Linked DNA regions of Homo sapiens: region 1 is linked to region 2. The links come from fine-mapping of genetic effects on gene expression. A gene starts in region 2. The other region holds a variant in brackets. All regions are shown on one strand. Distances are between the middles of the regions. Region 1 overlaps MIR31HG (MIR31 host gene). Region 2 holds the start of MIR31HG (MIR31 host gene).

Region 1 (16,369 bases), 67 kb after region 2:
GCAAATGAATAGTTTCATTATATGACCTGACTGTATCTACAGCACAGACTCAGTGACAAAGAGGACATTTGTTTCTGTGTGTTAAGATGTTTTTAAGAACCTTTATTCCTGCCCCAAACAGGAGAACTGTTGAACTGTCACCACACAGGATGCTTATCAAAGACACTGACATCTTTCCAGCCTTCTTCACCTGTGCCCCAATTGCTACCTGTTGTTGGGTGTGTGTTACCACTTCCAAGCCATCTTCTCTTGAATTTCAAGAGAAGCCACTCTGAGCAGCAGTCTCTCAGTTTCACGACTTTAGAATGACCTCTTTCATTTTGCATTTATACGTGACCAAAGGTGGCTCAGATTGGGTTTCCCAGCTTCCTAGGTTAGTCAAAGTGAAGTTTGACACCGAGAGATGGGGTCAAGCTAGGGTGCCCTCAGGAAGTTAATCAGGAAGATTAATTGGCCCAATATTTAAGTGTAATTAAGCCCAGAAAAAATTGAAATTGTATCTAAGTACATCTGTCTAACACTCTTCCCTCTTTGTACCCCAGGCACACCAGTTTTAGTCTTTATAATGAGCTTTACAGATCTAATATTACACTTTTAATTAAGATTTTTTTAAGCAGCAATATCTTGTCTTAGTTTTAGCTGATTTATTTAGAAAGTACCTTGTTTGAGATGGCAATTCTTATGTTAGCCCACAAGCGTATTTTTACCTGGCATTCAGATGAACTTGGGTTTCTGGCATAGCATTCTATAGGTCATTTGGATAGCCTCCCATCTGGTCTTTTGATACCACTTGCACCAATCTCAGTATTTCCTGTAACCATTTTAGACCGTAGCCTTCACACATCCTTTTGGTCCTGGCTGTTGACTGTGCCAAGAAAAATGTGTAACCAGGTAGTTAGACTTCGTTGCTCAGCAAACTCATTAATCTCTGGACCAGGTCAGGCACCAGTCTTCATATCTGATTTTTGGTAGTTACACAAAGTAAGCAGAATTGATTTTAGACAACTCCGTCATTTGGTAATTGCTTAGAGCCTTGAGAAATGTAGGCCAGATTAAGAAGGCAAAGGGCAAAGGTTCCAGTTCTTTAATATTATATCGTCTTCTCGTTTATTTTTCTCTTTGCTCTACCAAGGAGTGAAGTCAACTGAGTTCTTCTCAAAACTCAGATTAATGAATTCCAAATGTGACAAAAACCCTGTGAGGTTACAATGACTTCGCTGGTGTTTGTCTCTTTTAATCTTTCAAATATTTCTTCAGGAAAGGAAGAAGTGACAAGTCTAAACTGAAGAAGTTGACATCAGAGGGCCAGTGGAATGGAATCTTAGTTCAGTTCCCACAAAAGGAGGATTTCTTGGTACCAAGAGATAAAATAAATATGAATTGGGGGGCTGGGGCAGGACTTCAAAGGGTCAGAGAATAAATAAATATTAAATTACTAATGTCTTTACTAGGCAATTTATACATGTTATCTTCTTTAGTCCTTATAATTACTCTGCAAGTTAATCATCAGCATTCCTCTTTTACAGAAATGGAGCCTTACTAAAAAGTTAACTCTCTTCCCAAGCACTGTACATTTGGTAGGCTAGATTTCAGAGCCACTATTATCTTAGTGTAAAACACTGACACATCCAGTATGTTGTTTCTTCCAAGAGAAAAACAGAGCATTAATTCCAAGGTAAAGTTGACTTGCTATATTTCCTAAATTATATTGGTAGATCCTTTTCTGTGATGATTTCCACCTAGAATGCCTGTTACCTTTTTTAGGTCAGAAGAGCAGTATTCATTAAGACTTTGCATGCTATTCAGAGAAAAATATGTTCATTGATATCATCTGACCCACCCAGGACCAACCCCCTACACACACACACACACACACACATGCACACACACACACACTCAGACACACACACACCACATCACACCACACCATAACTTTTCCTGAGCCTGGGTCAGGCCTTCTAATCAGCAATATTTCTTTAGTTTCTTGAATATACATGAGAATTTTAGGGTTTTTCTCTATCAGCTATGGAAAAAAGATTTATGTGCCTATGTGTCAAGCAACATGGTAATACTTTCTTACCTGTAGTATCAATTATTGCTTTGTATGAAGTAGGCCTTTCTATGTTGATTTAACAGATGAAGGAATAAACTCAGTTTCCGAAGACTCATGTAGGTTTACCTAGTTGATAAGTTACAGAGCTAGAATTTGAGCCTCTGTCTATTTTGATTCTAAAACTGTTCTTTTCCTTGTGTCATGGCCATTTGTCCCTCTACTCATGGTCCCTCTGTTTGGGGTGACATGCATGCTTTTGTTGTTAGCTGTGGCTTTTTACAGAGCACCATACAATGGAATGCACCATGGAAAACGATAATACCTTACAGTCACATGGAGCTGACTTTTAATTTTATTTACTATCAATTGTCTTTGTTTGTTGTATTTGGCTATCTAATGACCTTTACAGATATTGTATTTTATATCTTGAACATTTGTTTCAAGATTTCATTTATTTTTATACTTAATTTCTTGTATATCTTTGAATACATGGAGCCTATTTATGATAGCAGTTTAATATTTTTGCTAATTCTATCATCTCATTTATTTTCTATTAATTTTTCTCCTGATTATAGTTTATATATTCTTATTTCCTGTGTCTGGTAGTTTTTTTTAATTGAATGCCAGTTATTGTGATTGTATGTTTTTGTGTGACGGATTTTGTTGTATTCCTTTAAACAGGTTGGATTTTGTTTCAGTAGGCAGCTATGGTAATTGTGGATTAGTTTGATTAAAGTCTTGTTTTTATGTTCTTTTAAGACAGATCTGTAGTAGTCTTTACTTTCGGGCTAATTTAGCCCCACATTTAAGTTTTAGCCCTTTTAGGGTCTTTTGCCCTGTGGCTGGTGGGAACTTGAACAATTTTCAGTCTTGAATGTGCGCTTAAGTTGTTTGGCTTAAAGCTCCCCAGCAATTATTCTTTCTTTGGAGGTTGTACTTGCTGGGCCTCATAGGGCTTTACCCAGTGCATGTACACATTAGCATTTACCAAAGACTCAAGGGGACCCTTATAAAAAAATTCTAGAACTCTTTTTCTGGGTAGCTCACTTCTTTTGGGTACTCTGTCTTGCAAATTTCATATGCTTTGGCTTCCTCAGACTTTTATCTCTGTCTCCTGAACTGAGAGAGATTGCTCAGAAAGGGTCCTCCTCCCTGCAACACAGTCTAAAAATTGCCCCCAGGCAAAAAGCCTCATTTGTTTCCCATCTCTCAGGGATCACAGTCCTGGATTGGCTATTCTTCAATGACTGAAAATAGTTGTTTCCTATATTTTGTTTAGTTTTTAAATTGTTTGTAGAGGGAGGGTAATTCTTGACCCTGTCAGTCCCTCATGACCAGAAGTAGAAATCCCAGCTGACCATGTTTGGAAATGTTAACTTTTCTAAATCATAGGTTTCTTTTATTTTCATTTTTAAAATGATCTTATTATCATAAGACCTGCCTCTCAAGAATATTATAAAGATTAGAAATAACATTATATTTATTCTCTCAATAATGCACACAACATTTGGATTTAATATGTCAGTAGCTCAGTTTCCTTATTTGTGCAATGGGGATAATAATAGTACTTCATAAGGTAGTTTTGTGGATTAAATAAATTATTAATAATATTTGTGATTCCTTTAGACAAATGCCTAGCACATAGTAAGAGTATTAAGTGTCAATAAAATAATTTTGGACAGCCAAGGGTGTGTTGTCTACTCCCAGAAATAAAACAATCTCATGGTTAATCAACAGTGAACACACCTAGAGTTAGAGAACATTCAAACTATCTCTTAACTTCTTTTAATGAGATGTTTTTCAGTCCACAGAGATCCATCTCAGATGGTTGTCCAGGGTTTCATATCTCTCATCTCCCCCACTCCATTTTCCCTCTGTCTTAATCTCTCCTCCCTTTTCTGTTCATGTTTTTGGTTCACTCTTGGACACATGATGAAACATTCTCAGAATCATGATGGTCATACTTGCCTACATCTTTTTTAGAGTGTTCATGTACCTTTTAACATTTACCTTTAAAAAGCTTAGGTTTTTAAATTTTGTCACAATGGAGCATCTGTAGGATAAATTTTTCTCTTGATAACTAGGCCACTTCTTGTAACTTTGACGTGTTGTTATGCTAAGAGTCTCTGTTTCTTTACTATATTTTACCGGAGAATCCTGCTGAGGATTAAGAGGGAAAGAAAAGAATTAGATGATGAGGACCAAATACATAAAGCTCTTCAAGAAGTGTCTTATACATAATATATACTCAGTAAGTAATGGCTGTTATTTCGATATCACCATTTGAGTGGACATACAAGTGACACTGTACATCTAACAGTGTGACTTGTGTATTAAATATTACATTGTACGTAAAGTGTTAAGACTAAAGACTAATATTAAGACTTAAACATGAGCAGAGGGTTTGGGGAGAACTACGTTGCCCCTGAATTTGATAATCTATGTACAATTCAAACTTATGTGTTGTAGATCATGGGGTCTAATACTTCTACAGCTCTCTTACCAATATCCTAGAATCCCTTGTTTCATTGTCATTCAGTTGACTCTCACCTGCCAAAGTCCCAACCTTGGATGGACTGTGAATCTTCTCTGCTTATTTAAATCAAGACAAATTGGTGCCTCTATTAATTTAGTTCACCAATCTATGTAAGCAGATACTCAATATTGCTCTCCTGTCTTTGTCAACTCTCCCTCACATTCTTTCTATCACAACCCTAAAATTTGCCCCCTCCCTTCAAGTTTAGAACACCTCTTTCTCCTCTATTGAATAAGTTCATTTATTCATTCAATATTTATGGGATATTTATTGGGTGTCTACTGTATTTTGGGCTGGAATGTAGTGTGCTACACTGTGTGGCTGCACTGTAAGCAAAATACAGAAACGGATAGGACCCTCTGAAGGGAGAGAGAGAAATTAGTCAAATGGTCACAAATCTTATAGACTATAATGATAGCTATGAATGGAGCTATAAGCCCATGTGTAAGAGCATGTCAGCTGGGTGAAGAGGAGTTGAATTGGGAGACAAGACAGGTTTCAAAGCAAAGAAAATAGAATGTGCCAGGGCACATGTTAATCTCATAGATGGTCCATCACGTGCTCTAGTCTTCCACTTCAAGAAAACAAATAGAAACCACCAGAATGAAACACTGAGCTTCCTCTTCTAAACCTGCACTCAAACCTGTGTTGATCCTATTCTTTTCTCCTTCCTGTTACAGACCAAGCCCAACATGAGGCTCTGGTTCCATTTCTTCCCTACTCTACTGGTTTCTTCTAATCAACAGAGAATATTTCTCACTTTAAAAAACAAAACAAGATAAAAAACAAAACTTGCCAAGACTGAACCTCTCACTCCTATTTTCAGTTAATTTTTCTCTTCGATGTAGTGATCAAATTTTTGTGGGCATATCCTATATCATTTTGTTGTTTATTTCCATTTCCTCTTATAAGAATTGAAATCTGGCTTCCACCCTAATACTCCATTGAAAATTCCGTTTGCCAAAGTCACTGATAATGTCCATGTAATTAACTTCAACATATGTTTTCAAGTACTTACTTTTCTTGCCCACTTAGTGGTGTGTGACACTGTTACACAATCCTTTGTTCTTGAAAACTGGTTTTCCTTCTGATCTAGACACTCTTTTTTTTTGAGACGAAGTCTTGCTCTTGTCCCCCAGGCTGCAGTGCGATAGCGCAATCTCGGCTCACTGCAACCTTTGCCTCCTGAGTTCATGCGATTCTCTTGCCTCAGCCTCCTGAGTAGCTGGGATTACAGGCACCCACCACCATGCCTGGCTAATTTTTGTATTTTCAGTAGAGACAGGGTTTCACCATGTTGGCCAGGCTGGTCTCGAACTCCTGACCTCAGGTGATCCACCCGCCTCAGCCTCCTAAAGTGCTGGAATTACAGGTGTGAGCCACTGCACCTGGCCTAGACATTGTTTATTTCACTTTTTGGTCTCCTCTTCTACTCATTGCTTAAATATTGGTGTTTCTTGGGGATTGATCTTGAGCAATTTGTTTGTGTCATTCTGTATACAGAAGGTCAATAACTTTAGAAAAAAAGAGATGCTCGTAATTGATTTTACTCTGGTATACATCTGCATTATAGAATGCTATAACAGGGGTCACCAATCCCCAGGCCACAGTCCGGTACTGCTCCATTGCCTGTTAGGAACCAGGGCCACACAGCAGGAGGTGAGCAGCGGGTGAGTGCGCAAAGCTTCATCTGTATTTACAGCAACTCCCCACTGCTCACATTACCTCTTGAGCTCTGCCTCCTGTCAGATCAGTGGCAGCACTAGATTCTCTCATAGGAGTGCGAACCCTGTTGTGAACTAGGCATAGGAGGGATCTAGGTTGCGTGCTCCCTGTGAGAATCTAGTGCCTGATGATCTGTCACTGTCTCCCATCACCTCCAGATGGGAAATATAGTTTCCCTCCAAATGAGAAAGATAGTTGCAGGAAAGCAAGCTCAGGGCTCCCACTGGTTCTACATTATGGTGAGTTGTATAATTATTTTTAGTATACATTACAATATAATAGTAATAGAAATAAAGTGCACAATAAATGTGATGTGCTTGAATCATCCCGAAACCATTCCCCCACCCTGGTCTATGGAAAAAATTATCTTCCACAAAACAGGTTCCTGGTGCCAAAAAGGTTGGGGACTGCTGTGCTATGTCATTTGCTTATACTCTACTATTTCTCCCCTTTTACCCTACCTAATCCAATCAAACTCCATTCCAGGGATCTTTATCTCTGTTTAACTGAACAGGGCCTGGAGCAATGCTAGGACCATAATAAGCAATCAATAAACATTTCTTGAATGAATTAATAACATGAGGACCAATACATGTCATCTAAGTGCTTCTAGAGTATGTACACACTTGGTTCTTCTTTCTTTGAATTAATTGACATTTGTTGAAAAAGCAGTTAATAGAAAATGGGCTTCATCTTATTTCCAGCTGTGACTGATTAATAGGGGCTACCCTCAGAGCATTTTGAAAGTACTTACCTAGAGCTTGATGGAACAGACTGCCGTTATCTATTAATAATATCATTTTAGCATAAATGATATTTTAATAATAACATAAATAATAACATTTATTATGCATGGCTTACATGCCATGCACTATACTAAACATATTAGGTGGATTATCTCAATTAGATTTCACAACAACTCCAAGAGACACCATTATTATACTTGTCTTAACATTGATGAAACTGAGACACAGAGAAGTTAATAGCTTGCTAAAAACCACACAGCAAGCAAGTAGTAGAGTTGGGGTTTAAACCTATTCTGTTGCACATTAAAGCCCATGTGCTGAGTATCATGTTATACAATTTTCATGAGAAGTGGTGGTCTTTTCCTTTCTACTGTGCTTTTGCCATTCTTGGCCTAAATTATGAAGAGGGAAAGGGAGAACAGTATAGTTGATGATAGTGTACAAAAAGAAGGCTATTCTGCTCTGTTAGACCTCTGTCATCATGTCTCAAATGTGGATTATTTAGTTAAAAAATACAAACACACTTTTTATCCTTTGAAATAATCATGAAAGTTGAAAATACAGGAGAGAGAATCTTATTTTTGAAATAATTTAAGTTGCCAAGCTGATGCACCAATACTGTCAAATACTTTAATGTGTGTTTCCTACCAACAGAGATATTTTCCCTGCATAACCACAACAAAATTCAGAAATTAACATTGTTACGTTAGCACCATATGATACTCAGTGTTCGTATTTAGATTTGTAGTCCCAATAATCCAATAATATTCTTTTTTTTTTTTGAAATGGAGTCTTGTTCTGTCACCCAGGCTGGAGTGCAGTGGCATAATCTCAGTTTACGGCACTCTCCACCTCTCAGGTTCAAGCTATTCTCCTGCCTCAGCCTCCCAAGTAGCTGGGATTACAGGCACCCGTCACCACACCCAGCTAATTTTTGTATTTTTGGTAGAGATGGGGTTACACCATGTTGGCCAGGCTGGTTTCAAACTCCTGACCTCAGGTGATACACCCGCCTCAGCCTCCAAAAGTGCTGGGATTACAGGTGTGAGCCACGGTGCTTGGACCCTATAATATTCCTAGTAGCAAATGGATCCTGTTCAGAATCATGCTATGCATTCAGTTGCTATATTCTTTAGTCTCTTATAGTCTGGAGCAGTTGCTGGGTCTTTGTTGATTTTCATGACCTTGAACGATTACAGGGCAATTGTTTTACAGAATATTTCTCCTCACTCCACTCAAGTTATGACTCCCCACAGCAGCCCCGCTCCACGGATGCTCTAATCACTCTTAGGCTGTGACACCCATGCCAGGTTCTCTCTCCACATAAACAGTCACCTTTGCCTGTCTGAGCTCCAGCAGTGTGGCTTCCTGCCCTTTCCAGCAAAATGCTTACATTGTTTTGTCCATCTATTGTCTTTAGGACTGAATTTTTCAAAAAGGGAAAGGGAAGCAGAGATTAGATATCAATTTAAGATCAATTCCAGCTCCAGAATTCTATGATAGATAAATTAATATGGTCAAATATTTGAAAGTTTATGCTCAGAAAATGGAGTAGAGCTGTGTCGATACCATTGGGAAAAATAACCATATCTGAAATAATAACTGAGGCCAGAGCAAAGGGAGGCGCTGAGTAGCTTGGGATAGGGCTAGATGTGGCACCCTGTGTGTGGCACGCTGGAGAGTCTGGCCAGAGCACAAGATCCCAGAGTGGTCAGAGAAGTTAGAATATGTTTACAGACGCCCCCACCCCCCGACCCCCAGAAAGGGAGAGGAGGTAGTAGATGGCCAGAAAGCAAGGCATGTCCATTAGAGTGGTCAAGGCAAAAAAGGAAAATATAACAATACTAACCAGCAAGTATCTTAATATGGATTAGACAGACTAGTGAGCTAATGTGTTATGGGAACAATACACCTGGTCTGAGTAATGTATTGCTGATCATACATTATCAGACCACTAGATACCATTAATTTGTGATATCTTACCAACAGCAAAGTTTATCCCAGGCTCTAAGTAATTGATATTATGCTGCCATCCTTTGGTTGAATTTAAAATGCCTCGTTTACTAACTGGAACTGTTTTTGTGTGTTTTAAACAGAGGGTATCACAATTTTAATTACATTTTTTAGATTGACAGTAATGATAAATAATTTATGGAGACAAGTGAATAAATAAAACTTGATACTTATGTAATAAATTTAAAAGTCATTGAAAAGCCCATTCTAGCTAAAGATGAACTACCAGTCGTTTGTTTAATTTATTTTAGAGACTTCGTCATACTGACTGATACTTAAGATTTAGCCCTTTTTTCATCATCATGACACTTTCCATTGTCTTTCTCTAAGCAATGTAAGCATGCAGTGAATTTCCTTAATACCATCCTTAGATTCAGACAAGAGTGACCTATGCTCTACTCTAGGTCTTGCCCTTTTGAGAAACCTGAATATCAGACATGATTCAATTTATACAACACATGTGTATGCACACACGGAAGTGCACATACACACACATGCATAGACACACACAACATTTTAAAAAAGCATCTAGTACCCACATCACTTAGGATCTGGTACTCAGTGCTCACATATGGCCCAATAACTCTAAATATACATGCTCATTAGTAATTCCATTTGGTACCCAGGGAGATATTTCTCCACATCTCTTGCTTTCAGTCCCCTACAAAAAATTGACTGTACCTGATGCCATGAAGGAGACGTTGCCTTGGAATGTAGGGGATTTGAGCTGCAGAGGAAAGAGAAGACACATTAATTGCCTAGTAAACCCTTCCTCAAGGACAGCAGGAACGCAATAGATTCTTACAAAATGAAATACCATGTCTCAATAGTCCCCAGTGTCCATTCTCTTGCTTGTCTTTACGTAACAATTAGTGATTCAGCTGTTTGGTGGTCTCTTCACACGGACGCGCATGAAATTTGGTGCCTTGACTCGGAACAGGGGACCTCCCTTGGGAGATCAATCCCCCATCCTCCTGCTCTTTGCTCTGTGAGAAAGATCCACCTACGACCTCAGGTCCTCAGACCAACCAGCCCAAGGAACATCTCACCAATTTCAAATCCGGTAAGCGGCCTCATCTTACTCTCTTCTCCAACCTCTCTCACTGTCCCTCAACCACTTTCTCCTTTCCACTCTTCAATCTCTCCCTTCTCTTAATTTCAATTCCTTTCATTTTCTGGGAGAGACAAAGGAGACACGTTTTATTCATAGACCCAAAACTCCGGCGCCGGTCACGGATTGGGAAGGCAGCCTTCCCTTGGTGTTTAATCATTGCAGGGACGCCTCTCTGATCATTCAGCCATGTTTCAAGGGTGTCAGACCACGCAGGGACGCCTGCCTTGGTCCTTCACCCTTAGCGGCAAGTCCCGCTTTTCTGGGGAAGGGGCAAGTACCTCAACCCCTTCTCTCCTTGTCTCTACCCCTTCTCTGCTTTTCTGGGAGAGGGGCAAATAGCCCTCAACCTCTTCTCTCCTTGTCTCTACCCCTTCTCTGCTTTCCTGGGGCAGGGGCAAGTACCCCTCAACCCCTTCTCCTTCACCCTTAGCGGCGAGTCCCGCTTTCCTAGGGGGCAAGAACCCCCAACCGCTTATTTCCATGCCCCAACCTCTTATCTCTGCGCCCCAACCTCTTATCTCTGCACCCCAATCGCTTATTTCCATGCCCCAACCTCTTATCTCTGCGCCCCAATCCCTTATTTCTGTGCCCCAACCCTTTCTCTGCTTTTCTGGAGGGCAAGAAACCCCCACCCCTTCTCCGTGTCTCTACTCTTTTCTCTGGGCTTGCCTCCTTCACTATGGGCAAGCTTCCACCTTCCATTCCTCCTTCTTCTCCCTTAGCCTGTATTCTTAAGAACTTAAAACCTCTTCAATCCTCACCTGACCTAAAACCTAAATGCCTTATTTTCTTCTGCAATGCCGCTTGACCCCAATACAAACTCGACAGTAGTTCCAAATAGCCAGAAAATGGCACTTTGAATTTTTCCATCCTGCAATATCTAAATAATTCTTGTCGTAAAATAGGCAAACGGTCTGAGGTGCCTGACATCCAGGCATTCTTTTACACATCAGTCCCTTCCTAGTCTCTGCGCCCAGTGCAACTCGTCCCAAATCTTCCTTCTTTCCCTCCCGCCTGTCCCCTCAGTCCCAACCCCAAGCGTCGCTGAGTCTTTCTAATCTTCCTTTTCTACAGACCCATCTGACCTCTCCCCTCCTCGCCAGGCCGAGCTAGGTCCCAATTCTTCCTCAGCCTCCGTTCCTCCACCCTATAATCTTTTTATCGCCTCCCCTCCTCACACCTGGTCGGGCTTACAGTTTCGTTCCGTGACTAGCCCTCCCCCACCTGCCCAGCAATTTACTCTTAAAAAGGTGGCTGGAGCCAAAGGCATAATCAAGGTTAATGCTCCTTTTTCTTTATCCCAAATCAGATAGCGTTTAGGCTCTTTTTCATCAAATATAAAAACCCAGCCCAGTTCATGGCTCGTTCGGCAGCAACCCTGAGATGCTTTACAGCCCTAGACCCTAAAAGGTCAAAAGGCCATCTTATTCTCAATATACATTTTATTACCCAATCTGCTCCCAACATTAAATAAAACTCCAAAAATTAAATTCCGGCCCTCAAATCCCACAACAGGATTTAATTAACCTTGCCTTCAAGGTGTACAATAATAGAAAAAAGTTTCAACTCCTTGCCTCCACTGTGAGACAAACCCCAGCCACATCTCCAGCACACAAGAACTTCCAAACGCCTGAACCGCAGCGGCCAGGCATTCCTCCAGAACCTCCTCCCCCAGGAGTTTGCTGCAAGTGCCAGAAATGTGGCCACCAGGCCAAGGAATGCCTGCAGCCCAAGATTCCTCCTAAGCCGTGTCCCATCTGTGCGGGACCCCACTGGCAATCGGACTGTCCAACTCACCTGGCAGCCACTCCCAGAGTCCCTGGAACTCTGGCCCAAGGCTCTCTGACTGCTTCCCAGATCTTCTTGGCTTAGCGGCTGAAGACTGACGCTGCCCGATCGCCTCGGAAGCCCCCTAGACCATCACGGACGCCAAGCTTCGGGTAACTCTCACAGTGGAAGGTAAGTCTGTCCCCTTCTTAATCAATACGGAGGCTACCCACTCCATATTACCTTCTTTTCAAGGGCCTGTTTCCCTTGCC[C/T]CCATAACTGTTGTGGGTATTGACGGCCAGGCTTCTAAACCTCTTAAAACTCCCCAACTCTGGTGCCAACTTAGACAATACTCTTTTAAGCACTCCTTTTTAGTTATCCCCACCTGCCCAGTTCCCTTATTAGGCTGAGACATTTTAACCAAATTATCTGCTTCCCTGACTATTCCTGGACCATAGCCGCATCTCATTGATGCCCTTCTTCCCAATCCAAAGCCTCTTTTGCGTCCTCCTCTTGTATTCCCCCATCTTAACCCACAAGTATAAGATACCTCTACTCCCTCCTTGGCGACCGATCATGCACCCCTTACCATCTCATTAAAACCTAATCACCCTTACCTGGCTCAATGCCAATATCCCATCCCACAGCATGCTTTGAAAGGATTAAAGCCTGTTAACACTTGCCTTCACTTAGACTGACCCTGACACCCATTAGGCTCAGCAAATTACCTGGGCTATACTGCCGCAAGGCTTCACAGACAGCCCCCATTACTTCAGTCAAGCCCAAATTTCATCCTCATCTGTTAGTCATACTCCTATTCACCGTTCTCAACTACTCATACATGCCCTGCTCTTGTTTACACTGCTGGTTTACACTGTTTCTCCAAGCCATCGCAGCTGATATCTCCTGGTGCTATCCCCAAACTGCCACTCTAAACTCTTGAAGTAAATAAATAATCTTTGCTGGCAGGACTATGCTGAATCTCCTTAGGCACTCTCTAATTAGATGTCCTAGGTCCTCCCAATTCTTAGTCCTTTTATACCTGTTTTTCTCCTTCTCTTATTCCATTTAGTTTGTCACTTCATCCAAGACCGTATCCAGGCCAACCAATCATTCTATATGACAGATGTTTCTTCTAACATCCCCACAATATCACCCCTTACCACAAGACCTCCCTTCAGCTTAATCTCTCCCACTCTAGGTTCCCACGCCGCCCCAATCCCGCTTGAAGCAGCCCTGAGAAACATCGCCCATTCTCTGTCCATATCACCCGCCAGAAATTTTTGCCGCCCCAACACTTCACTATTTTGTTTTATTTTTCTTATTAATATAAGAAGGCAGGAATGTCAGGCCTCTGAGCCCAAGCCAAGCCATTGCATCCCCTGTGACTTGCACGTATACGCCCAGATGGCCTGAAGTAACTGAAGAATCACAAAAGAAGTGAACATGCCCTGCCCCACCTTAACTGATGACATTCCACCACAAAAGAAGTGTAAATGGCCAGTCCTTGCCTTAAGTGATGACATTACCTTGTGAAAGTCCTTTTCCTGGCTCATCCTGGCTCGAAAAGCACCCCCACTGAGCACCTTGCGAACCCCCACTCCTGCCCACCAGAGAACAAACCCCCTTTGAGTGTAATTTTCCTTTACCTACCCAAATCCTATAAAACGGCCCCACCCTTATCTCCCTTCCCTGACTCTTTTCGGACTCAGCCCGCCTGCACCCAGGTGAAATAAAGAGCCATGTTGCTCAAAAAAAAAAAAAAAAAAAAAAAACAATTAGTGATTCAGGAGGGACTCATAAATTATGATGGGCATTGGCAATAGTTGTACATGGAGGCTGGAAAATATTTCTCAATATTAATCAATTTATTTTACTCTTAAATCTTAATTTATGTTGGTCTAGACATATGCTGGAAGTGTGATACATTTTTTTTTACATTGTTATCCATATGAACCTTGTAAGATAGAATTGCATGTAATTTTACTTTTATAAACATTTTTAATGCTTAATACGTTTTTAATTAAAAGGTTAAGTATATGCTTTATTTAAATACTGTCAGTTTAAATTTGATATTAATTATACCACACATGTTGTCTTTTAATTTTGATAGATAACATTGTATAAAATATTTCATGTTTTTTGAAAATATAAAATATGTAATATTTTTAACATTTACTTTAGATTACATTTTTTGTGAAAACATTTTCAAAATTTCTAGACTTTGAATACAATTATATTTTGTTTTTAATCTTTTAGATCAGGGTTCAGCAAACCTTTCTGTAAAAGACCAGAGAGTAAATATTTCAGGTTTTGTAGACCATATAGTTCCTATCACAACTATTCAGCCTTGCTATTGTAGCATGAAAGTGCCATAACAAATGAGCATCATTGTGTTCTAGTAAAACTTTATTTACAAAAGTAGGTGGTAGGCCAGATGCAGTGGCTCACGCCTGTAATTCCAGCACTTTGGGAGGCCAAGGCGGGCAGATCACGAGGTCAGGAGATCGAGACCATCCTGGCTAAAACAGTGAAACCCCATCTCTACTAAAAATATAAAAAAATTAGCTGGGTGTGGTGGTGGGCGCCTGTAGTCCCAGCTACTTGGGAGGCTGAGGCAGGAGAATGGCGTGAACCTGGGAGGCGGAGCTTGCGGTTAGCCGAGATCAAGCCACTGCACGCCAGCCTGGGCGACAAAGCAAAACTCCATCTCAAAAAAAAAAAAAAAAAAAAAAAAAAAGAAGAAGCAGGAGGTGGTAGGACAGATTTGGTCCATAGGCTATAGTTTGCCAACTCCCACTTTAGATTATTTATAATGAGAGAACCTCCACTTCTAGTCATGAGGGACAACTAGATTTATCATCTCACTTTGAACAACTAGAATACTGAGTAAAATATACGAAAAATAGTTTTTAGACATTGGATAACAGACAGCGTAAGATAATGATCCTTGAGAGAAAGGAAAGAAATACAGTAAGCCCTACAATTGCTCCAGCTTAATGCTGGATAGAAAATTGGCAGGCTGCAGCACAAAGAGGAGGAAACTCCAACAGACCAGTGTTCTCAATGAGTTGATATGTCATAGTTTGGAGTTCAGGGAGGCAGAAAAATATTGGAGAAGATATTGCTGCACAGAGGGAAATTGGGGAAGAATGAATGAGAGCTACGAAGATCTGTAAAAATGTCTTCAGGAGTCTTTAGCTAATGTGTGGTTTGTGTATGTGCGTAAAGGAGTTACCCGATTAGGAAAAGAACACCCAGAAAGGAGCAGGCAGTACAGGCTGTCCCCAGTGCTAACACAGGGCTGGGGATATTTCATGTTTCCAGCAGCCAGAGGGCAAAAATCTCCAAATTCAGAGAGCATTAAGTAGAGTCCTCAAAAGACTATATTCTTGGTTACAAAGGCATTGCCCTAAATTATAAAGTCTGCTTCACTCATGCTAACAAAGCCAATGTCAGAGGAATCCAATTCCAAGTAACTCAACTATACCCTAAAACAAAGTTCAACTGTACGTAAAGGACTTAACAAATCCAACTCCCATTAAAGTAAAATTTACAATGCTCAGAATCCACTCAAAAGTTACCAAACATGCAAAAGACATAGGAAAATAGGACCCATAAAGAGTAGAAATATAATTGACAAGACCAGACTCAGAAATGACACAAATGATAGAATTATCAGAAAAGGAGATTAAACACCTACTATAAATGTACTCCATATGCTCAAGAATGTAGAGGAAAAGATGAATGTGATGAGGAAAGAAATGTAGATATGAAAAAGAAACAAATTCAACTTCTACAAATGAAAGTATAATATCTGAAGTGATAAATATACTGGATGGGATTAACTGTAGATAAGATACTACCAAAGGAAATACCAATAAGCTTGAAGGCAGACTTAGAAACTATTAGAAATAAGACAGAGGAAAAGACTAAAAAGTAAATGAGCAAAGCTTCAGGGAACTGTGTGATAATATTAAACAGTCAAACACATCTAGAGATGTAGTCCCAGAAGAGATTAGGAAGGAGGGAATGGTAATAGAAAAATGTTAAAAGAAATAAAGTCTGAAACTTTTTCAAATTTGATGAAAATGATAAAATCATGGATTCACAAAGCTCAAAAAAAACCTTGTAAAAGAGACAAGAAGAAAATCACACCAAAGCACATTATTATCAAATTTCTAGAAAATAGTGATAGTAAATCTTAAAAGCTGCCAGAGAAAAAGAAGAAACATTATGCACAGAGGAATAAAATTAAGAATGACCACAGTCTTCTCTTCAGAAATTATGCAAGCCAGAATAGAGTAGAGCAACATCTTTACAGTTCTTAAAGAAAAAATATATCAACTTAGAATTCTATACCCAGCAAAAATATATTTCAAAAAGAAGACACAATACTTTTTCAGACAGACAAA
Region 2 (16,369 bases):
GAAAGATCGACTTAGTAGTTCCTTGACTTAGAGCCTTATGAGCTGGAGTCAAGTGCTGATTTTGCCATGTGCCATGTGTCATCTTTGTCAGCTACCTAATTTAGCTGAACCTCAATTTCCTCATTAAAATGGAGATTATGATTCCAACTTAAAGCATTTTTGTGAGGTTTACATGTGAATGGAGCTTGAACCCTGCCTGGAAGAAGAAACTCAGTGATGAGCTTTTCCTTTTGAAATCTTCCAGAGTGATGTGGGTTGAGTTTCAAAGTATATTTCAAATGATGAAAATAAATTTTCAAATAACCAAGTTTTATATAAGCAATAACTGTTTTCGTTACTTCAAAGCAAACAGGATACAAATTCATTATTTTTTAATACCCTGAATAGGAAAGAAAGACACTTTCCTGTATTATTATTCTATCTTTTAAATTGAAGATGAGTTCAGGAAACAATTTCCCCATGATTTCCAAGGTTATGTTAATTAAACATTCAATAAAAACATGCTAACAGAGTGTTTAGCAAAGATGGTTCTGAAAGTGGGAAAATGCCTTCCAAAGACAAAGAGGAGTCAAAACATTCTAATGATGTCACAGCACTCCTCCTTGTCCTCAGCAACGTTTTCTTTTGCTTCCATTCCCAAGTTGAACCTCTCTTTCCCTTACTTTTCCTTTTTACCCACTGCCTAAAACCTAATTACAGACTAGGGTTGATGTTTAAGTTAGATAAACAGAAAAAAGTCACAACTGCATCTTGATTTACCTCTTGATCACCTAATGTTCAATAATGTAGAGAATTTATTTGATACTAGGATAAAAATCTTGCTCTTCGACCTGTCTTCAGGGCCTAGTATAATGCCAGGCACATGGGAGGGATTCAACAAAAAGTTATTGAATCTAAGGGTGACATACATCTGGCATGCACTGATATGACTAGGTATGTAAAATATTGGTACTGTTCTGTATATATTGTTATATATCTTTATTGATATAGTTCTGCATAAACAGCTACTGCCCCACGGACCCTCCAGTGCCCCTCTTGCTTTCCTGGCCCCTTACCTGGGACACTCCTGTTCCTTGAGTCAGTAGCTTCTGACAGATCAGGGGTTTCTAGACCTCACTCAAGAGTTCTGGCTGCCTTTAGCTCTAGGTGACCAGCATCTGTACCATTCTAGCTGTGATGTATTTTTAATATCATCTTTACTATAATGAGTGTTAGTTTAGCATTATCCACTAGCCCTGATGTAACAAAATGGGGGAAAAGTAGTGGTCTGAAGAGTATAAAAGGAGGAGAAGTGAAAACAGGGAAGGCAGGAGAGGTAGGGAAGGTAGAAAAGAAGCAGGAGGAAAACCTGGTATAAAAGATCACCACCTGCAGGAATTTGATTCATACAATCACTTTTCTCATTTGCTATCCATTGTCCAAACCATCTTCCCAGAATGCTACAGAAAGCTTTTTGAAAAGTATAGGGTACCTGTCTAGAACCAGAGTTGTAATTACTGAGTTTACTATGCTGATACCATTGCCTGGAAAAATATTATGCCAAATATTTCCCTTCTTTTGCCCTTTGTGTTGGCTTACTTTGGGTAAAATAACATTAGTCAGATTCTTATCCAACCCAGGTGAAATCCTCGTACAAAATACTACCAGGGAGTGTCCAAATTATTTCATTGTACTGGGATTCCGTTGAATTAAATGTTGTTAAAAATCTAGTATTGTGAATCTTTTGGTTACACGGAGATTTCTGTTTTGTCAAAATGCTATTACACTCTGTAATTTAGAAAGCATTAAAGAACCATTGCTGAATGTTTGGACTGCTTTTGTTTGTACTAGGGCTGTGTTTTGCAAACTGTGCCCTGCTACACTCTAAAAAATGTGGGAGTGGGTTTTGATGGTCAAAAATGTTTGAGAAATACAATGCATGTTAGCCTATTAATGGGTCTGAGGTTTAAGCCCAAGATTTCTTGAACATCTCTCTGTCTCTCTTTTTTTTTTTTTCATGGAACACTTCATATGGGATACCAAGTCTGATAAATGCAAATGTTGGATCAGAGTATTCATTTCTGCATTTATCGAGGACCTGCCATGTGTTTGGAAATGGGTCAGGCTGACAAAACAAAGAAAAATAAAGCATAGTACTTGCCGCTGAAAGGCTAGCAGAGGAGATGCAATGCAAAGGATATTACAGAGTTGTCTTGTTTTGTTTTTTTAATATGGGAAAACAGCAGACAAAGCAACTGAGCATGGGAGGATGGGGGTGAGGGCTATGTCTAGGAAAACTTCCCCAGGGAGAAAGTCTCACCGTAAGAATATATCTGTGCAAGTATCAGGCACAAGAGATTTACAAAAAACAAACAAAAAACCCAGCAGGGAGAAAAGGACCCTCTCACATATCCTAGCCACACAAATGCCTTCTACCTCAGTGTATTGGATATATCAACATGTCTCCCTTATGACTGCCAGTTCTCATTTCAGATAGTTTCATGGAAGGTGAGTCGTGGCCATAAAGATAATCTGCATTTTTTTCTTTAAAACACACACATGCACACGTTCATAATTTGGGTCTCAATTGGACATCTGCTTAGATTTTAGCTCTCTTTCCATAGCTGGACAGGGATTTAAGAAGTATGCCTTGGCTGTAAACTTGTTTTTTCTTGTATTCAACATGCACAGGGGCATGACTTTTTAACTAGTCATTCATCGGATGGGGAGTGGGAATGGATTGGAATCCTTGATGTGGTTCCAAACATTGCTGGCTTTTTCAGCCTTAAAACCAACAGCCCAGAGACATTTGACGGTCTTTGATGTGTTCTATACTGAACACACTAGGTGTGCAGCAACACCATTACAAAGGAAGGGAAATGGAACTGGTGTTTCTCTCAAGTCTCTCTCTCTCTCTCTCTCTCTCTCTCTGTCTCTCTCCTTTTAAACATAAATGGTGTGCCCTGCACTCTGCTAACAAATTTATAAATATTATTTTGTTTAATTTTTACAGTACCATATGAGCTATACATTACAATATTTTTACTATTTTTACTGGTATGCAAATGGAGGGACAAAGATTTTGGAAATTTAATGAAGGTAAGTGTCAGAGAGGAGAGTAAAAATGAGATGCACTTCATTCCAAAGCCTGAATACATTTTCCACTGCACTCACTAAAATGCCAGAAAAAGGATTACTGACACGTGTCTTGTACCACTCTAAAATAACACTATTGCATTCTAATTTAGTGTGCTAGCTTAATGACAAGAGTCCTTTACTTTAAGCAGGATGCCCTAGCACTTTCTTTTCCTGATGGAAGTACCTGGCCATTGTTCAAAATGTGTCAAAACAGAGTCCATCATTTATTTACTTTTCTCCTTTTATCTAATAAATGCATTCCTTGAAGGAATAAGTCCAATTTCGAGTAAAGAATGGATGGCTGGGATTTAGGGTGCTATTCAGAACTCTTCAGCAGCTGACCTGCTATCTTTGAGAAAGACCAATGTTTTCTTTACCTTTTGTTTTCTCTAAGTCCTTTCTCTCTCTCTCTTCTTAAAATGCAGATTCTGATTTAGTAGGTCTGGGGTATCATCTAGGGTTTTGCATTTTAAATGGTCTTGCTGATGCTGATCCTCTATGGAGTCTTACTGAGCAGTAAGACCCTAGTAGTAGTTCCAATTCTATATCTCTACCACAAAGCACTTTAGAGCAGCCCCTCCCAGAATCCTGTCAGATAGATCCTTTCCATACTCCATCTCACCACTCAGCTAAAGCCTAAACCCACACAATGAGGAAGCCATCACCAGGTTGACAGGTAAGAGGGAGTAAACTGACTTTTTTCCTTAGAATAAAACTATTAGTGATGGGGGGTTGGTATTATATAGTCCTCTATCTACTTAACATGTTGTGCGTCTCTATAAATTGTAAGGTGGGTTACAAATAATGAGTATGAATAATTTATCTCTTTACATTAGAGCAAACTTAAAGTTGTTAAAAAACATTGCTTTCACTTTCTTTCAAGAGAGGAGAAAGAGATAAAATCAGAGTTAGCAAGAACTAAGCATTGTACTATAACAATCTAATAATTGTTTGGAAGCCCGTGTAGATATATCCATATCATCCTAGTGTGTTGGAGTTGAGAACCACCACTCTTCCTCATAGAGACCTCTGAAATCCTTTGATTCTTCAAAATATGGATGATTCAAAGATGAACAAGGCCATTGATAAGGAAGACTTATTTCTGAGCCAGAGATTAACTTTCTGTATGTTAACAGCTCATGAGGGATTTTTTTTTTTAAGCAGCTAGTGTTGTTGCCTGTATTTTCAATTAAGACAAGCTTCATGACGGTTCCTAAAATGAGGGCTGAATGGGCAAGGTTGAAAAATTCTGGAAACCGATTTAGCATTCAATAAATTTATGCATACCTAAAGACAACTGTACAATCCAATACTATGTCATTTCATTTTTAAGGGAAAACTATGGCTTTCTCTAAATGTTCTTATAAAAAATCATACCAGGAATAAAACAGAATATGGCTCATATTTTCATATTCAGTTTTTTCAATAATTTAAATATTTCTTTTCCTACTTCTACTTTACAGAAGTTAGGTGAAATAAAATGTGTGTTTGACTAAACGTTTAAAGAAAATAATACTACCAGGCAAAATAACATTCTAAACTTAGCATGGAATAAAGATACAATGACGTAATATTTTCAGCTTGTTCCTGTTTTACCTACAATATTTATTTTGAAAAGCATGACACTGTCTCTTTTAGAAAAATTAATTTTCACCTTTCTACATGTACCAAAAATGCTTCCTTCTCACCTCGCTCTTCACAGTGAGAACTGTATTATTCAAAAGTAGCAGGCATGAGATTGTAGCTACAAAAAAAAAAAAGGCTACAAATGGAAGATAATCCATTTAAATGCTTTAACGTGCTAAAGGTTATATAAGGATAAATGGGGAATCACAAATATTTTTAAAATAATTTCAATATTTCATTTACCGTTGTTATATATTCTTATTTCAACTTTTATTCTTAATTATGAAACATTTCAAAATGATGCCAGATATTCATACACCCACCATCTAGTTTGAACAGATAATAACATTTGCATAGATATTTATAGTGTTGTCTTTTTAGCAAGTTTTTCTACGTAAAGAACTATAAAATACTTTTTAGCAAGTTTTCTGTATATAAACTTTTTATATATAAAGTTTTTCTATAACATGTCTACTATAAAGAAGACATTAAAATATTTGTCGATGTCATCAGTCAAATCACTTAAACTGAAATTATCTGCTAACTTCCACATAAAAGCTTATTAGAACTTCAAAAAATGCCAGAGAGACCGCTAAGAAATTCTTTCCAATGCTTCTTGCACCACCTCATTGTTCAAAAACAATACTAATAATAATCACCAGAATTTGGGTTTGCTTACATGCAAAAACATTTCTAAATAAGTAAACTAAAAATGAAATGGAAAGCACACTTTGTATACTTTCTGTTAATAATTTATTTTATAATTATTATAAATATTTATTTTGGAAAAAGATTGTTTTGGCATTTCTGTTCCCATTTGTCCTGTACTTCATGTGTGTGGGTGCATTTTATATTTATATTTATATATATATATATACACACACACACATACATATGTATACACACACATACACATATGTATCTTAAATACATATATTTAAACTTTAAATAAAATAAAGATTGTATTCTACTCTCTTCTGAAAGTCCTTGATTACCAGTGGATGTATAAAGACGTGATAACTAATACAGAACAAGTTTTATGGTACAGAAATTATTAATCACTAAAATAATACATTAAGCTTTGTAAGTAATATATTTAGAAATAATTTAAATGCCAGTAGAAACTTTGACTTATTTATTCATTTTAGGGTACAACTAGAAAATGAGTAGTGGTTCATCTTTTACTTGCAGGTAAAGGTTGAGGAGGAAATTCTCACATTCAAGATGATGCTGTCATTATAATGAAGTAAGATGGAACAAAAAGTTGTATGTGAAGTACCCTGGGCAAGCCCCTTTGATAGTTTTAGCTACAGATGCCTGTGTGTTTGCAATGTGGGCCTCTTATGGCTGTATTCTATTAGCTCTGGGTTTACTGTGATATTATGTATATTTGTCTTGGGCCAAACAGCTTGCTTGCCTCAGTTGAAGTCTAAAAGATACTATGGGCTTAAGACACTTTTTGTTTATTTGCTATTTGAGGTGAATTATTCCTTCTTTGCTTCTTTGCTATTCATAATATTATGATATATAATTTTGGCTATGCAATTGTGTAATCTTTTCTATAATATTATTTTGGGCTTCTGTATAAAAGCTTAAAAATATGTTCCACGAATGAGATGCTTATGCTTGTTTATTCAATATTTTTTTCTGTTGGACTTTGGACAAAGTCTTGCCTAGTGGGATTCACATATAAGGAAAGCTTTTTTTTCTTGTTACTCACAGAATTACGATGTTTAAAATAGCTATTTGAGTTCAATGATACTATACTTTCCATAATAAATTTAGAGTACTTTTTTCACTTCAAAGAATGCTTTTGAGTTTTCCATGAATAGGTTTCACTAACTACATTTTTAAAAAGACCTTAGCTCTGAGGTTTATCCTCTTTTACATCTTAAGGTACATTTTTCATGATTTCTAAAATATTTGCTTTTTAAAAATACTAGGACTGTTAATTTTAAAAATTCATTTTTCAAAATTTTCAGAAATTTTAATATTAAGAATCTGTTTAATTTTTTTTATTTCTTGGTCAAGGCAGTCATATGGTTTGAGATTTCTCAGTTCTTTAAAATGGGAGTTCATAAATTCAACCTGTTCTAAGCTAACTGTAGTGATTCCTAGCTGTCGTTTACTTAACACTATTAACCATTAAACACTACTGACATCTCAACTCAAAACATACACTTAGGTATAGGAAATAGTATACAAACATTTTATTTAACCATATCGTATGCAGAAAATTTAAAATTTGAATCTTTCTTATAGTCCTTGGACTCAAATCTTCATGCAAATACAATTTATATAATCAATTATATTTGACTTGTGTTTTTTAAAGTGGCTAAGGAAATGAGTACCAACTTATTAGGGAATATTTGATGAATATTTTTCGTTTTGGTTGAACAAATGACTACGTAGAGTTATATTTACTTCAAAATCAATAAAATACCACTATTAACCTTGCTCTGACGCTCCCACCCCCACCCTTCAACTCGTAGAATATTTTTTGGTGGTAACTAGACTGACCTTTGCCAAAATGTAATTACATTCAGAGAGAAATACAATTTTCCCCTTCAAATCCAGGTGAAAGGCTACCATGCTGGGCTTGCGGAGGGCATAGTTGAGTAGGACAGCCAGAACTTCTGGCTAGGTCATCGGGTCGGATTACCCTGCCATGTACCCCTCAGTATTTACTTCCAGAGATGGGCAACTTACTATAGTCTTCATGTTTAAGGAATTCAAACCCAAATGAAAAGTGTTGTGAAAGCATAAATATCTCTGCTTGTATACTACAGTACTGAATATGAAACCACATATTGCAATAAAAATAACTAACGATGGCCCATGCATTTCACAAGGCGCTCTCATACACCTGAAGGGGCAGTGGAAAGGTTCAGAGCACCCAGGCTGTCCCAAAGAGGGCGGAATCAAATCTGGGCGCAGGTGGGTACCCGGAAAAAATTCTTGGTGGAGATGGCATCTGAGAGAGGCGTCGAAGGACACGGAGGGTTGAGGATAGGAGAGAGGCCACTCCAGATGGAAAAACACCCTCGTTTTCCAAATGCCAGTTATACCACGGGGCCTGTGATAGCCGCCACGTTTCTAGAAGACCCCTAGAAGAGCAGGGGTCCGACCAAGGAAGTACTTCCGCTGTTCAATTTGCTAAGTTTGCATTCGGAGAGTACAAGGGCGAGCTCTGGCTCTTGCAGGTGGACTCCCTCTCCCTTAGCTCTGACTGCGAGAAGCTCCCACCCGCAAAGGGCTACTGTGCCAAAAGCGAGCGTAGTGGCCGCCGCTTCCCCCACAAAATTCCGTCACTCGGGAGCTGCGTTGCAGTGGAGAAACCTGGGTCCCGTCCGGGCCCAAGGGAGGAGGCTCAGCACGGCCGCTCCCGCAGCCCCGTCCAGGCGCCTCTTCCCTCCCCCTCCTTTCCGCGGCGGTCGCGGCGGCGGCTGGAGCGGGAGCCGGGGGCGGCGAGGGGCGGAGCCGGGGCGGAGCCACGGCGCTGGCGGCCCCGGCGGCGGCGGCAGGTGTGGATGGGGCGAAGGTGCGGGAACGTCCACTCCCGCGCGCCCCTCTCGGGGACCAGGGCGGCCTCCCAGGAGGAGCTTGGTGAGCAGCTGCGACCTGTGCATAACTTGGGGCGCCGCCAGGGGCTCGCAGGTTCCACGTCCGGCGCCTGGAGAAGGAAGACGCGCGTCCCCGGCCGCGGCGCCGAAGCCGGCTGGGGGACCGCCTGGTCCCGGGCCAGAGCTGGGAGGCGGTGTTCCGTGAGCCGCCTGGTCTGGGGTGCGGGGGGCGGGAAGCGGCCCCTTCGTGTGCGCTTGGGCGAGGCCGGGCGGCGCTTCTGTCCTCCTACTCGGACCCGCAGGTAAGCTGGGAGAGCCTTGGTCCCGCTGCGCGCTGAGCTGGCTAGGGAGGCGCCCCTCAAGGAGTTGAGGAGGCTTCGGGGCCTGGGCACACGGCAGTGGGCACACGGCAGTCGACACCCGGGTCCGAGGACCGCCGGCGCCCGTTGGCGCCCAAACGAGGATGCGCCGCGGGGTCCGGCGCATCCCGGAGCGCCGGCCGCCCTTGGCTCTTCGCGGAACCGCCGCCTCCTCTTGTCCAAATCTCAGGTCGTCATCCTGGCCCGAAGTCACAGGTTCGCTCTCTGTCCCTAAACCTCGAGGAAGGAGTTGTGTGTGTCCATGAGCGTGTTGGCGGAGAGCGCTTTCATACAGCGATGTTTGAGTTGAGCTCATTTTACCACCTAAAATTACTGTCACTTTAAAACTTAACTAAGCTTTCCCTTCTTAGAAGAGAAATTAGGCTTGTGGTTTACACCCATGGCTAGTAGGATTAAAGTTTGTTTTTGCCCTGTACAGCTGAGAAAATGTTTTGTAAAATCCTGAATTTTCCAACAGTACTTCTAAAAGAGCCTCCGATTCTCCAGCGAGACAATGGCAGTCATTAAAAAAAACACAGCGGAAATGTTCACTTAGAGCGGCTTCACTAGGAGAGAAGTTAAGGAAACCTTAGGCAAAAGTGACCCCTTAATTGACACCTTACAGGACCGTTTTTTTGACCTTGTATTAGTGGTAATAGGACTAAGAATGACAGCTCAAGAACTATACCTGGTTTGGAACTGAGGCTGTGGCCAGACGCCCCTCACTTTCCGGGGACCTCTAGTTTCTGGAATCGGGCCTTTGAACTTCCTTATTGAAATCCTGGCAGCTTTGAAGTGAAATTAGGAAAATGATCCTATTTATTCGCTGGAGTTTATTAACTCTGCATTAAAGTGTTTATCTCCTGGGCCAAAATTGAAACAATATTGTATTTTGCATTTTGTTTTAAATAAATTTTTACCAATTCAGGTAAAAATTGGATTTGAAAATGACAGTTAAGTCTAGGTTTATTTGTTGTCGAGTTTTGTATGAGGGGGCTGACTTTTAAGTTGTTTTTTAAAGTCCAATCCTGGTTATTTTTCATTGTCTTCAGAGGTTAATCTTTAGGTGAGAACTTTATCTTGATTTTAAGGCAAAAAAAGTAAAAAAGGCAGTGATTTAAGTCACCCAAAGAACTATAGTTCCTCCTTTCTCTTTTTTTCCTTAACTTGAGACAGAGCTTCCTGAAAATTGGGCAGCTGCTTTAATCTTATCATATAAAAAATGTTTCAAGTTGAATTTGGGGCCCTAAAATGGAAAATTTTGATTTGTGTTTGTTTTAATAGAATCATTAGACCTTATGGAATTATCAGCTTGGAGTGTTTATTTTCTATTTATACCATATTACTACTTTGTTGTACATGTTAATATTGCTTAGATGATAGGTAAATGTTTAGAGAAACCAGACTTTAATAAAGTACAGAATTATTCATTGGATGAAATTTTATAATTTTTCAGTCTTATAAATTCTGAAAAGTGTATAACAGAGACAAAGTGTTTAACCTATAATGTGGATTGTTGGCCCTTTTTGGAATTTTAAACGAGAAGGGAGGTATGAAATGCTTTATTCTATATTTAAGCATCTTTTTAGAAGTGGAAATAAATTGGAGGATCACTTTTATGTACAGTGTAATGGCTAGATAGCTATTCTAGAAACTACAACAAATGCTTGAGGAAGTAAAATTAGAAGGTAGTATAAAATTGTGTATTATATTTTTACAATTTCAAGGAGATTGCATACTTATAAATTTCATATCCTCAAGTGAAGAGTGTTGAACTGAATAAAATAGAATTTTTCTACATACCATGTTTTTCTCAGATTAAAAAAAATAGTCATCTTGGTTTGCCTAAAAAACTAAGCTGTAGTTAAATTTGGTTGGTACGTATTTGGGATAATTAAAAATACTTTAATTCATGTACTTTAACAGTTCTTTTCTTCAGTAACAGGTTTTTATAAGAAATGTTTTACTTGAAACATTGACATTTAATGACAGATGTCATTATATTTTTCATATAATTGCCACAGTTTTTCTTCATTGTGTGTATCTAGGTAGCTTTGGCATATAAACATCGGGGGGGCTCTAAACAAATTTTAACTGTAAAAAAGCAAGAGATGCAATCCCAGATTATTAACATTTGAGGAATGAAATCCAGCTTTAAGATAAAATGGCTTTTTGAAGACACTTTAAAATACATATAATGATAGGATTCTTAGAGAGTAATGTTTTTGGTAGTTCTTTTAATCATAAAATGAATTAACAAAAGAATTGATGCTTAAGTTTGAACAGCTTCTTGGTTTCACAACTATTTCCTTAGAAATAATCTCCCAAGTGATTCAGAAATTTTTATGGAAGTGAGGAAAAAAAACAGCAACTTTTGTTGGATCTAGGGTAGGTCAATCTTAACTAAGAAACAGCGAAATTTGATCTTTGTGTTATAAACTGTAGTTTCACTGAGGACTTCTTAACTATGTCATCTTTTTAAATACAATTAAGTGTTTAGAAAGTAAGTCAGTTATTTTATTTGTACAATATAAGTGCTTGCTGTATTTATGGATATTGAGGCTTTTTTATCCACATCTTATGTGAGAAGGCAGTCCAGGAAATTATTAAAATAATTTTGGTAAGAGTCTAGATGAAGGGGAAAAATCGATTGTATATATGTGTGCTGGTTTGCAGTATGGAGGGGAGTAAAAAGAGTCTGAGAACAAAACTTACTTTCGGACTTCCTAGAAGTTTCTGCTTTATTATGTAATTGAATTTTTTTGTCAGGATGTAGTTATTGGTTGTACTAAAATACAGCAGACAACAGAAAAAATAAATCTCATTTGAAAATCCTTAATCATGGCTTTATCGAATACACAGCTTACTCTATTTTGTCTAAATACCAGCTTCCAAGCTGTCAGCATTAATTTAGAAGCCAATTTCTAAATTAAATGTGTTATTAAGTAATTTCCATTTAAGAGCAATGTCCAAATAGCACTGATTCTTTAAGTAAAATAATAATTATATTAATAAAAATTATACTTTTGGGCAAATGGCAGGGGAAAAATGCCATTTTTATTGGCCTTGGAAACATTTATGCTAAGCAGTTTGTGGCCCAGTTTCCATTTCTGTGATTGTGCTGCCTCTGACAAAGGATCGACTACTGAGCGGTGAAAGATTGTATAGGGAAAATTAATAAAACCTGCTACGTGGGTTGATCATAGTTCTGCCTGATAAGCCTGAGTCCATATGAATCTGAGCCAGTTAAGAAGTTCTGAGTCTTAATTCCCCACAGCTCTTTCACATTGATTCCTGTGAGTTAGCAGTAGTGAAGGAGTCCCCTTCTCTGCCATTTGCAAAGCCAACTTCATGATCCGCAGCAAATCAAACCCACGAAATGTTTTGGTCTTGTCCAATTCAGCTTTACTTCCTTGCCAGGGGCATAACAGTTGAAGTTAAAAGACTTAGACCCAAATGGGAAAATTAGTGCCATTTGTGTATAGGCAGTAGCCTTGTTCATACTACTTTCAACCTAATTAGAAAGAAATAAAGTATGATTTGATTGTAAGTCCGCCAGGGTAGGTAGCATATAGGGGAGTGTGGCTCAAGAATCTAAGTTTTTCACTTATTTTGAATTATTAAGAGTTTGCGTTATAGTTCTCTTTTTTGTTTTACTTCTATAGAGTGCTTCTACAATTTGGAAGAGGGGAAAAGTACAATAAAATGGCAAATATTAAAGTGACCAAGAAGGCATAGCATTGGTTACAGAAAAGTTCTTTCACTTCTCCTTAGGTAATTCTGTGTTGGATTTTCTTCTTTGTATTTTAAATCTAGGTTCTTTGCTTAGAGGTAATTTTGATTCTGAGGAGGGTAGCAGGAAAGGAAAATGAACTGCATCTAAAAACCAGTGTAATCCGACAACTGACGTCTTATTTCTGCCAAATTTCAGGTGGACTTGGGCCACGTTAGTAAATTGGATATGTATAAAATAAGATAAAGAAATCATCTCAGAAAGTCCTGCTCTAGAAGCTTCTAGTATGTGAGGTGAGACTATTTTAGAGTCCAAGGTTTGAATACAAGCAAAGGATTGATTTCCCCAAAAGTCAAACTGGTACGATCTTACTATCTAAAATAACTTGAGATTTTTGAGTTATAGCACATGTTGAAGTAGAAATTCCAGTCATAAAGTCATTATTGAATGATTATCCTGGGGAGTTTTGCCTCACTGATCAAACCTTTTACTGATTATCTCAACTTCATTAACTAAATAAAAAATTTCATATAAGAAGCAGTGGACTAAAGCACTAAAAGTGTGAGTTCTCTGAAGTAAAATCCACATAAAGTAAATGAAGCCTTAAAAATTAGGATTTAAGTAGCTTTTAACTAGAGTGGTTTTTGAAGTAAAAACTGGTAATATTGTCACTTGACATTTTCTTTTCATATTCTGTGCCGTGACTCAAAACTCATTTCCTTTTTATAGGTGAGAATGGAAGTAGATAAAATTTGAAAACAAATACACAAACCCCAGCTTTTTTGCAGCTGGACTTTAATAATTTTATAACATGGCTGCATGTTTCCTAGCACGTTAACAGTGATAAAATTTTACATTGCTTTTTATGCTTTTGGAATTGGGATTAGGATGATATAACAGAATGAAAACTGCAACATTAATTCACTTTTCAAATGAATATGTTTATGCAAATTAAATGGAGGTCTTGAAAAACAGTAGTTTGAATTGTAATTCAAAGTAAAAATTACAGGTTAATACCTGGACTGATATGTGTTAAGTAGCTTTCTAATTGCTTCTAATAATCGAATAATTAGAATTTTATCATAACTTTTTAATCTCTGGAAATAAATTTCTAGTTTTTATATGAGGAAAAATTTAATGACATATTAATGTTATTAAGTATTAAATAATATAAGCTAAAAGATATTTTCTTTCAATACCCAGAAATGACTGAAAATATTTTTGTAGACAAAAGAAGACTGTATGGAAAGGTAACGGAAAGAGATATAAAAGACTACCCAACTAGATGGTTTTTTGAATAATAAATCTTTAATATAAATTTTATTTTTGCTGCTAAGAGGTTTTCAAATTCTGGAGAAATAGCCATAAATCTTATGAACTGACAAAGATGATCAAAACATTTTAAAGATTCAGCTTCCTTTTAAAATAAATGTATTTATCAATTGGTCAAAGCTAATGTTCTGTATTTCCTTTTGTAAATTAACACACTGTCAAAAGGAAATATAAAAATGGAGAGCTAGTTATAGCCCAGTTAAGAATAATTTAAAAAACAGATTTATTTGAAAAGTAAATTTTCCTTTTGAAGATGTTCGTTATGCTAATCGTAAGTGTTGGTGGCCTTTTTGTTTTGCAAAATTTATTGAAGTAGAAATGATAAGACCACATATTTCAGAATAATGGGCAAGTTACTATGTGTTAGATAGTTCTATTAGCTAAGCTATAAACATAAATTTTACTGGAAATATTAAAATATAAATGGAAATAAATTATTAAAATATAAACAGAGCCACATAATTGACTGTTGTCTACTTTTATTTCAGATCACATCTAAAATACTAACTAGAACTAACACAAAACTGTTTTCTAAAACTGCCAGGGTGTCAGCTTCATCCAAATATTTTGTTCAAAAGTAAATATTAAAATAAAATGCATCCAACTCTTCTGATTGTCAAAGCAGTGATAACAATTATAGCGCTTTCTGTTGATCATTTCCTGGGTTCCATGCTTTACTTATATTACCGCAGATAAGCTTCAAATAACCCTCCCATCTAAGCGCCATGATTGTTCCTATTTTACAGAGAAGAAAACTGGCCTAGTGAGATTAAAGGGGTCAGACAGCTAATAAATGGTGTAGTACTGGGACTCCAATCCAAGTCTTTCCTATTTCTATGTCTCTGCTCTTAATTACTTTGTTATATATCACATTAATTAAGCAGAATATCTGTGGAACTCTTCTTGAAACCTGTTTGGGAGTCATTTGTACAGCATTTTGGATGTCCTCAGCTATAGCACATATTTTAATTTTTATTTTTAGAACTAATTCAAAGTCCTTCATGTCCAAGTCTGGCAAAAGACACAGATGGTATAGGTAGTAATTAATGTTTATGACCAAAAGAGGCAGATAGTGTCTTTAAAGTACTAAATCTGATATTTAAATTTTCTCTGAAGACCATACTAAAGGAACCATATAGATCATTGTTTTTAGAGCCATGGCACTGGAATTGGAATATAAGTATAGTCTTCGAGGCACCTAACCCAAAATTGGTGTTCATTGAACATTTATTAAAACAATGAATGAGACAATGAATAAAAGGATAATATGTCTTTGCCTATGAAAATTATAATATGTGCTTGCAAAGTATAGTAACAAGTGTGGGTAGCTTATCATTAAAAATGATAATTCCCTCTTCATTATTATCACACCTGACCTTTGGCGTGGATATATAGATCTTGTGTGTGGGTATAAAGTCTGTTGAAGTTGTGGACTTGAGACAGAACTGTCAGAGCCAGCCATAATTAAGATGTGTGCTGAAACAAGATTTCATAGAACTAAATTCACAAGAGAAAAAGTAAAAGCCAAAGAATAAGGTGGAAATGTTGCTTTGCTAGTATTAGCAAATAGTATTCACAAATAGTATTAGCAAATAGTATTTGCAAATAGTATTTGCTAGTATCCTACTATTAGAGGAAGGGATCTGGGTTGCCATGCTGAATCTCTAGTGTTTACTCCCATGTGGCTTTGGGTGAGTTGCCTGGGCTATCAGTGTGTAAACTGAGGACCCACTTCAGGGCTGCCTAAGAGTTTTTAAAATCTTCAAGGTCTCCTTGCTAAGTTTCACGTGACTGCTGTTACTGTAACTCTTCTAGGGAACTTATGGGAACTCCACATGCAAGGACACTACCATTCCATACACACACACACATCCATATCCAGGTGAAGCACTACCGGGACCTATGCTTTCCCTTTGGCTCTAGTCTACCTTCCCTCTCAGAGCTTCCCCACTGCTTTCTATCCCTGATGGCAGAGGAAGTTGGAACTAGTTTTTATTTTGTGGTGGTTAATGATCCTGCACTCCTGAATAGGGTAAATGCAAAGGCCCTTTTCAGGGCTCACATTTTGCAGTGTCTGAAATTCAGCATGGGGACACAATAAAAGAACCAAAACAGAGGACTAAGCAGTGAACGGAGTCAGTTTGCAAATGAAACAAAACAGTGATTAAAATGCAAAGAAACAAAAGGAGCTTTAATAGCAAAAACATTGATAACAGGGTATGTTCAAAGGTCAAAGCAAAAAGGTTAAAGACAAAACTAGACAAATTTATATGATAAATTTTATAATGGAAAATGGCTTTTAAATAGTAAAAGTAATTAAAGCTTTAGATTTTTAAAATCAGAATTTTTCTTTTGAGGCTCACCAGAGCAGAGTGGTTATATTCTAGGAAAGCAAAGCTTGTGCATGGGGGGAGAGGTTGAGAGCGGGATGATGTAAACCATCATTCTGGGACACCACCAAAGACAACCAAACCTCAACATTTTGAAAGAGATTCTGAACAAAAGAATATTCTAAAGCAGTTTGAAAAGAGGAAGCCATTGTCTCTTTTTGTGTCTGGAAATGAAAAACAGGGACTACATTTAAATTCATCTGAAACATAAGGTTTCGAAAGAAAAAAAGACAAACAAGTTTGTCATCA

Evidence for each region. PIP is the estimated chance that this variant, and not a neighbour inherited with it, causes the effect.
Region 1: its variant is fine-mapped to the expression of MIR31HG in fibroblasts (GTEx, PIP 0.98).

The regions. Positions count from the first base shown.
Region 1 is chr9:21,484,666-21,501,034 of GRCh38, reverse strand. All of the region lies in intron 1 of MIR31HG (MIR31 host gene), which reads left to right. Among named protein-coding and RNA genes, the nearest start is that of IFNE, 11 kb to the right of the region's middle. RefSeq lists an enhancer at 13,166-13,755. The variant C/T (reference allele first, on the strand shown) is at 12,227.
Region 2 is chr9:21,551,728-21,568,096 of GRCh38, reverse strand. It overlaps MIR31HG (MIR31 host gene), which reads left to right and starts at 8,299. Exons shown (of 3, transcript NR_152879.1): 1 at 8,299-8,608. RefSeq lists an enhancer at 8,738-9,524.